Regions from separate parts of the Homo sapiens genome. Here region 2 is linked to region 1. The links come from fine-mapping of genetic effects on gene expression. A gene starts in region 1. The other region holds a variant in brackets. All regions are shown on one strand. Distances are between the middles of the regions.

Region 1 (4,392 bases):
TGGGTAACATACGCAGTCACTCCATTTATCCTCAGCACAACCCTACAAGGTAGCTACTGCTATTATCTCAATTTTATAAGAAACCAAGGCACAGGGGATGCTCTTTGCCCAAGGACACAGAGCTTGTGAGTGGCAGACCTAAGAGGTCTGGCTCCAAACTGTGTGTGCTGAACCACTGCACTACACTGCCTTTCACAAATGTAGCTAAATGTGCTCCGCTTTTCTTCTGGATCAAATTAGCACCACCTGGATAAACTCTACAAAATACTATATAAAAGGAAGTCAGTTATTTTATCTCTTACCTATTCACCAACCACTTATTGAGTACATAAGTAATGAACTCTGACAGGCCCTAGGGTAGAAGTATAGAGCTCAGAGTCTACTGGAGAGAATAAACAAATTATCACTACATTGACTTGATAGAGGAATGCAAAATGTACTAACTGCACTCAGCATAGGGATCAGATCAGGGGCACAGGAGGGAGAAATTCTCCTAGAGATGACAAATCTGAGTCTTGAAGGACACGTGAGTTAAACAGACTTGCTGGAAGCACTGGGGGAAGCACAGGGAAGGGTAGGGAGCCGTGTTGGAGGAAAGTGCTCTGTGGATATGGGAGCCAGCATGTTCTGGAAGCTGCCGTCAGATATGACTGAAATAGAACACATTTATGCGGTGGGAGATGAGATCAGAGAGGGAGGCTGTTTGCCATGCTAGAAAATTTTCCTGCAGAAGAGCTGACTGGAGAGAAGAGGGACTAAGGGGGTGGGGGAATTAGATCTGAAGCCATGGCAAGATTCCAGGGGAGAAATGAAATTATATTAGCTAAGGCGCTAAGGATGGGGACTGATGTGAGAAAGATGTAGGTGTTGGAATCTACAACTTGTTCACTTGAATGTAAGGAATCAAAAGTGAGGGAATGGGAAGGAAGGACCTTTTCTTGCAGGGAATTCCAGGTCTATTCAAAGGAAAACCTCCATGGAAGAATGAAGAGGTGGCCATCAGGAGGCTAACGCCTGCTCTGTAGAGTGTGACTCTACAGACCACTGGGGACACTTGAGATTTGGTGGCGAGGCAGGTATGGAATAAACATGTTTTTTAAAAATGTGTAATTATGTTAAGGTAAATTCGGGAAAAATAACTAGCCTATAATAACCTATAATTTCTCATATGCTGCCAATTTAAAGAAAAATATTAAATAGTAGTGTAAGTGGGAAACAGAGGAAATCCAAGCAACAGCATAGATGGCCTCACCAGGAAGTGAACAGGCAGGATGTTAATCAGAAGACAGACTACAGTCAGGTATCCAGACGCAGGGGGCCCCATTAAAACCTGCACACTGAATTCTGCAAATTACAAGGAAAACTGTACCCTTACTGAGGCTGTGCTGAGCCAACTCTGAAAAGTAACAATGCCTAGTCTCAAACAGACCGTTGTTAAAAGTGCTGAGCGAGGGTAAATACACTGGTCACGCACTAACTTTTGATGTTAGTTACTTTCACTGCACCTGCCCTGGCCCTACAACCAGTCCGCCAACTTCCTGAAGTCAGAAGATCATTTTGCATTTTCTCCTACATTTATAGAGGTGACTCTCAACAAACTTGGCTGCGCATTAGAATCACCTGGGACGTTTCTTAAATTCCTGAAGCCCAGGCCTCATCCCAAACCAATTAAATCAGAATCTCCATCGGCGGAAGCCGAGCATTAGGATTTTCTTAAAAGCTCCCCAGAAAATTCCGATGTCCAGCCGACTAAAACACTGAAAGAACCTGATAACGATTTCTTTTCCTTTCTTCCATTTGCCCCTGCAGCAGTTTTTCCTTCTGCCTAACTGCTTCTCCTGCTCTAGACCCACGTGGATTCCTAAGTATCCTTCAACACCGTCGCTTCAACTCGCGCTGTCGTTATACTAGGAAGGCAGGCCTATGGTTCACTCTGCTAGTGGACACGTGGAGTGTGCAGAGCGGACAGGCAGCTCTCCGACTCTGAAGGAATCGAGGGCAAAACGGGACTCGTGAGAACAGACAGTTCCCCGTCGTGGGGCTGCCCGGGCTCACCTTCTGGTCTGAACTCGGCCCTGCCTGGCGGTACACCCCGGAGCCGTAGACGAAAGCCAGACTCAGCTCCTCGGGGAAGTGAGACAGGATCTTGCGGAAGGTCACCCACGAGCTCTGCAGCGTCTGCAGCGCCATGGGGTCGAGGCTAACAGGGGACACTCAGCGCAGCAGGGCGAGGACAACCGGGCGGGGAACAGACACCGGGTAGGCGGTTTAGGGTGGGAAATGGAAGTCGGAGACTGGATCGAGGGACACAAGGCTGAGTGTGGGGTGGGACTGCAAGCACACGCAAGGATTGGGGCGTTGGGCCACGAAGAGCAGCGGCGAGAAGACGCAGCCCAGATAGGCTCGGGTGGGCGGCGGTCGCACAGGCAGAGCTTCCGTCCCTTGCTACGCCCCACGCACGCACAGGCGCTTCCAAGACGCAAGAGGCGGTGCTCGCCTTAGTGTGGGGAACGCGAGGCTTTGCATTGTCCCCTCGTGGTCGGAGGAGTGCCCTACAGGCTGGCGGCTAGGTTGCGACTTGGACAAATCGGCGGAGGCGAGCGTCACCCGACTCCGCGGGCCCTGAGCCTTGATAGCCTCTGTACTTCTCTCTTCAAACTACGGTTTAAAGAATGACTATAAAATCGGGAGCGTATTGAAGGTTTTTAAGTGAGGCGACACTCACATAATATGGAACTAGCCGTTCTGAAATGGACAGTGTAGTAGCATGTAGTGCCTTCACAATATTGTGCCCCCATCATCGCTCTAGTTCCAAAATTGCAGATTTCGAAGATTTGGAAAAACACAAAATTAAAATGATGCCCAATCCCGCCATGTAGAGAATACCACCGTCAAGATTTGACGGAGACTTCTTCACGCTAAAGCCCTTTTCAAATACAAGGGTGGATATGGGAGTGCACAGACGTTCTCTGATACTTGCATTTAATTTCAAGGGTGGATCACAGTTTTTGCCCCCTTGCCTTGTGGAATGGTCTCACAAAGGGTGCTTCAAATGCAGTTTCTGGAGGAAACAGGACCCTAGGAGTAGAAAAATCTTACAGCTCTCCTCTTTGTATAACTGGAGAAACTTGCTGAAGATTACCATTCAGGAGGTGGTTTGACTTCCAGGACAGAAACTTTTTCAACTACCCTCTCCTTCCTCCCCAAAATACACTACCTCTCAAAAATAATAGAAATAGTAATAGCTAACATTCAGGTAATGTTGACACATTTTCACATGCACTTCTCACTGAGCACCCTCTAGTGCCCTGTGGCAGGAGGGCCTTGGTTTTACTGATGGCCAAGCTAAGGCTTAGAGAGGTAAAGCCAGGTGATAGGATCACATCAGCCTGTGGCAAAACTAGAGCTAAACCCAGGTCTGGCTCCAACTCTGGGATTTTTTCGGAAATTCTGCTCTGTCCTTGAAGGGTTTTGAGCAAGGACTTATGTAATTCACATGTTAGCCTGAATTGTGGGGGACTGATTAGACAGTTGTTATCATAGTTCCCCCATGAACTGGAAACGGCTAGGCCAAGGTCTTAGGAGCAGGGATGGGATTAAATCAATTGGAAAAATGATTACTTGCACTCACACTCTGGGCCTGCACTGAGATGAAGAGATCTGAGCTGCCTGCTGCCCTGCAGGAGCTAGGGGTCTGTAGAGGAGAGGAGACAGAACTGCAAATCAGAGTAGAATTTGGGTAATGCAGCCAGGTACCCAGCACAGTGCCGGAATGTAATGTCCCTCCAATGGGAACGTCAGTCAGTTCTGGGTGTTGGGGAAAGGGACCAGAAGAGGTTTCACAATGATGGCATTTTGAGCCAGGCCTGGAAGCTGGGTAGGAGTTTATCAGGTAGAAGATAGATGGGAAAATTCAACCAAGAAAGAATTGAAAGGACTCGGTGACAATAATACTAATAATAGGTGTCATTATTAAGCACTTAGTATGCCCAGGCACTTTTTAGACTTCTTTGGGGCTTTTCTGTTTTTGTTTTTTTTTTGAGACCGAGTCTTGCTCTGTTGCCCAGGCTGGAGTGCAGTGGCACGATCTCAGCTCACTGTGACCTCTGCCTCCTGGGTTCAAGCAAGCATGCCTGGCTAATTGTTGTATTTTTAGTAGAGATGGGGTTTCACTGTGTTGGCCAGGCTGGTCTCGAAATCCTGACCTCTAGTGATTTGCCCACCTCAGCCTCCCAAAGTGCTGGAATTACAGGCGTGAGCCACTGCACCCAGGCTTTTTATACTTGTTTCTTTTCATCACTCCAGAGATCCTATGAGGCAGGTTCTCTAAGATGATGATATTTTTCATACGAGGAAACAGAGGTCCTAAGAGGAGCAGTAAATGTTCCAAAG
Region 2 (4,392 bases), 61 kb before region 1:
CTCTTTGAGCCTGTTTCCTGATTTGTAAAGTTAGAATAATAGTATTTGCCTTATTGGGTTGTGTAAGGATGAATGAGTTAATACAAGAAACATTGCTCCAAATAGTAAGCACTATCAAATTCTCATTACTCAAAATGTAAAATGTGGAACCATGTTCAATAAAAGTTAAAGACTACAACAACCCGATACAGACAGGACCCATAGGGACAGCTCTTCAGTAGTGGAGATTTGGGCCCCAACCAGGTAAGGAACTCTGCCCAAATGAAGTACAGGCTGAGGGCAACAGGAACACAGAATGAGTAAAGGGAGAAAGATGCCGTATCTACTGTGATATCATAACCTTTTTAAAAAATGATGTGGTGGCTCATGCCTGTAATTCTGGCACTTTGGGAGGCCGAGGAGGGCAGATCACTTGAGTTCAGGAGTTTGAGACCAGCTGGTCAACATGGTGAAACCCTGTCTCTACTAACAATACAAAAAATTAGCCAGGTGTGGTGGTGTGAGCCTGTAATCCCAGCTACTCAGGAGGCTGAGGTGGGAGAATCACTTGAACCTGGGAGGTGGAGGTTGCAGTGAGCCAAGATCGTGCCACTGCACTCCAGCCTGGGCAACAGAGCAAGACTCTGTCTCAAAAAACAAAAGAAACCAAAACCAAAACAAAAAAGGTAGGCATATTTCCTTCCTTGCGTGGTAATGTGTATATACATACTCACGGACAGGCACACGGGTATTTTTAACCCCTTCCCTTCAACTATTTTCTATGAGGAGAGTGGGTGGTGGTTAATGTTATAGGCTAGTTTCTAAATTATACAAAATCCAGTTGGGATTCTAATTAAAAGAGGCATTAACATCACCCACAGATGAATACAGTAACTGTAGGGACTTTGTTTACTCTTTCCTGCCAGAAAAGTGAGAACACTTCTTTTCTTTTCTTTTTTTTTTTTTTTTTTTTTGAGGAGGAGGAGTCTCGCTCTGTCCCCCAGGGTGGAGTGCAGTGGCGCAATCGTGGCTCACTGCAACTTCCGCCTCCCGGGTTCAAGTGATTCTCCAGCCTCAGCCTCCCAAGTAGTTGGGACTACAGGTGCCCGCCACCACCCCTGGCTAATTTGAGAGCATTTTCTTTTGTACAAAGGATAGCTGCATCACGTTGGGTGGAAACAGGAAGCTGCTGCTGGTGTATGGAAATTTACATATGATTGAAGGGTGGATCTGGATGCTCAGTCACCACAGGGAGGTGTTTCTCTGGTGAGCTCGGCCATTCCTCTGTACTCCACTCTCTACTGCTGGGTAGGAGCCTGCAAACTATGTTGCCCAGGTTTCTCACCAGCTGGCTTTCTATTAGGTTTTGCTGATTGGAGACCGTGGTGTCAGATCAGAAGATAGGAGGAAGAGAAGTTCCTGGGTTTGTCTGCAACTGCAGCAGCAGTTACTGGTGGTTGTCAAGTGGCATCTGGTTTTTGTTTTTGTTTTGTTTTGTTTTGAGATGGAGTCTTGCTCTGTCACCAGGCTGGAGTGCAGTGGCGCAATCTTGGCTCACTGCAACCTCCACCTCCTGGGTTCAAGTGATTCTCCTGCCTCAGCCTCCTGAGTAGATGGGACTACAGGCACCCCCTACCATGCCCAGCTAAGTTTTGTATTTTTAGTAGAGATGGGGTTTCACCATGTTGGCCAGGATGGTCTTGATCTCTTGACCTCGTCATCCACCTACCTCGGCCTCCCAAAATGCTGGGATTACAGGTGTGAGCCACCGTGCCCAGCCTGTTTTTTTCAGTCAGAGTCTCGCTCTCTCACCCAGGCTGGCGTGCAGTGCCACGATCTCCGCTCACTGCAGCCTTGACCTCCCGGGGTTCAGGTGATTCTGCCATCTCTGCCTCCCAAGTAGCTGGGACCACGGGTGCGCACCACTGCTCCCAGCTAATTTTTTGTTTACTTTTTGTAGAGATGAGGTCTCACTATGTTGTCCAGGCGGGCCTCAAACTCCTGAGCTCAAGCAATCCACCCACCTTGGCCTCCCAAAGTGCTGGGATTACAGGTGTTAGCCACCGTGCCTGGCCCAAGTGGCATCTGGGCAGTGGTGGTGACTCTGGCAGCTCTAGCAGTGGCAAAGGCATAAGTTTTCAGAGGACTTGTATACAGTATCTAATGCTGTGTACAAGTCTTCTGAACTGTGTACAAGTCTTCTGAAAACTTAATGACTTTTTAATCTTTTTGAGAGACAGAGTCTCGCTCTGGTGCCCAGGCTGGTGTGGGCTTGTAGGTTCCAATACAGGGCTGTTAGCAGCTTCCTGATGTGCAGCTTCTCTGCACGTAATCCTTCCTTCTCCAGGGTACCCCTTCTTTTTTGTTTGCCAGCCCTCCCAACATCTTTGTAACAAAATCCCTACATTAAGTTC[C/CATTT]ATTTATTTATTTATTTATTTATTTAATTTTATTATTATTATTATTATTATTATTATTATTTTTTGAGATGGAATCTTGCTCTGTCACTTAGGCCGGAGTACAGTGGCACGATCTTGGCTCATCGCAACCTCCACCTCCCAGGTTCAAGCAATTCTCCTGCCTCAGCCTCCTGAGTAGCTGGGATTACAGGCATGAGCCACCACACCTGGCTAATTTTTGTATTTTTAGTAGAGATGGGGTTTCACCATGTTGGCCAGGCTGGTTTCGAACTCCTGACCTCGTGATCCACCCGCCTCAGCCTCCCAAAGTGCTGGGATTACAGGCGTGAGCCACTGCAGCCAGCCCCTTCTATTTATTATACTTAGGGTTGTTTTCATTTTTCTTGACTAGATTGTGCAGTGGCACAATCACAGCTCACTGCAGCCTCAACCTTCTAGGCTCAAGCAATCCTCCCACCTCAACCTCCTGAGTAGCTGGGGCTACAGGTGTGTGCTACCATATTTTAAAGTTTTTGTAGAGATGCGGAAGTCTCACTATGTTGCCTGGGCTGGTCTTGAACTCCTGGGCTCAAGCGATTTTCCCACCTCAGCCTCCCAAAGTGCTGGGATTACACGTGTGAGCCACCACGCCTGGACAACTCAATGACTTTAAATGACAATGATCATTTTCTTATTCTCCCTCACACTTCCAAAAGCTGACTGGGCTTGGCTAGGCAGGTCCTGCTTGGGCTCTCTTGTTCTGTCATAGTCACAGTGGCTGGGGCTGGAGTTAAAGGCTTGCTCACTCACTTGTCTGGCAATTGATGTTGGACATCAGCCAGAACACCTCCATGTGGCCTCTCCCAGTGGCTTGGGCACCCTCACAACATGGCGGCTGGGTTGCAAGCCAAGTGTCCTGAGAGAGAGCCGGAAGGAAGCTGTGTCACCTTTTAGGACCTAGCCTTGGAAGTCATAGAGCATCTCATCTGTTATATTCTACCTGTTAGAAGCAAGTCACTAAGGCCCACCGACATTCAAGGAGGGAAAATGAATGCTACTGCTAGGAGGTGGGCCAAAGAATTTGTGAACATATTTTGAAACCGCTACAGGGAGCATCTCCAGCAACACAGCAGCAGGTGTGGGCTTGTAAGTTCCAGTCCAGGGATGTTAGCAGCGTCCTGATGTGCAGATTCTCTCCACGTCATCCCTTCTTCCTCCTCCAGGATACCCCTTCTTTTTTGTTTCCCAGCCTCCCAACATCTTTCTAACAAATTCCCTATATTAAATTCCTTCTATTTGATATACTTAGGGTTGTTTCCATTTTCTTGACTAGACTGACTAATATATGAGGGACTATCCCATGCCATCTAAACTCACCATCTGAACTGGATAGCAGAGATACTATCATGATGTGCCAAGAACCACGTTAGGTAATTTACGTTATGTCATTTAATTCTAACACCAAACCTGACAGATGGGTATAAGAATACCTACATCATAGATATAGAAACTAAGGTTCAGAAGGGTTAAGCAACTTGACCAAGGACACAGCTGGAAAGAGTTGAGAACCAACTCCAGGTGTGACACCAAAGTACATTTATTTCTTGAGCCTTCTGGAATGAGAAGAGCTACTTACTCCCGAAGAGTTCCACTTCCCTCAGAGAAAGTCTTACCTCTCCTCCTTATATGGCTTTTTGATGAATCACCTTAGATTGAGGAAAAGGAAGAATACATCTGGGGCAGTGGAACACAAAGACACAAGTATTCATCATTTGTGAAAACTGCAGGCTGTGTGAGAAAAGGCACTACACTGGAGTCTGGAAGCCAGGGTTCAAGCCCCAGCAATGTTACTCACATATGTTGGGACCCCAGGCAGTCACTTCCTCTCCAGAGGCCTGATTCCATAGCTGGAGAGTGACCCTGGTGTTCTGTGCTCCAATGAGTATCTAGTTGGTAAAGTATCTACTTTGGGAATATAAAAAGCTCTATCAGATACAGAGGACAGAAGTTAAAGTAAAAT

Alleles and levels. Positions count from the first base shown, and alleles are read on the strand shown. Sizes are in standard deviations (SD) of each study's normalised expression.
With allele C in place of CATTT in region 2, the expression in memory regulatory T cells of the gene that starts at base 2,439 in region 1 is higher (large effect, 0.91 SD a copy in Schmiedel 2018).

Evidence for each region. PIP is the estimated chance that this variant, and not a neighbour inherited with it, causes the effect.
Region 2: its variant is the best candidate, but not a certain one, in a credible set for the expression of TAMM41 in memory regulatory T cells (Schmiedel 2018, PIP 0.50).

Annotation. Positions count from the first base shown.
Region 1 is chr3:11,844,447-11,848,838 of GRCh38, forward strand. TAMM41 (TAM41 mitochondrial translocator assembly and maintenance homolog) reads right to left here and starts at 2,439. Exons shown (of 8, transcript NM_001284401.2): 1 at 2,056-2,439. The coding sequence starts at 2,190.
Region 2 is chr3:11,783,865-11,788,256 of GRCh38, forward strand. It overlaps a transcript of TAMM41 not described here. Among named protein-coding and RNA genes, the nearest start is that of TAMM41, 61 kb to the right of the region's middle. RefSeq lists an enhancer at 1,305-1,860. The variant C/CATTT (reference allele first, on the strand shown) is at 2,394.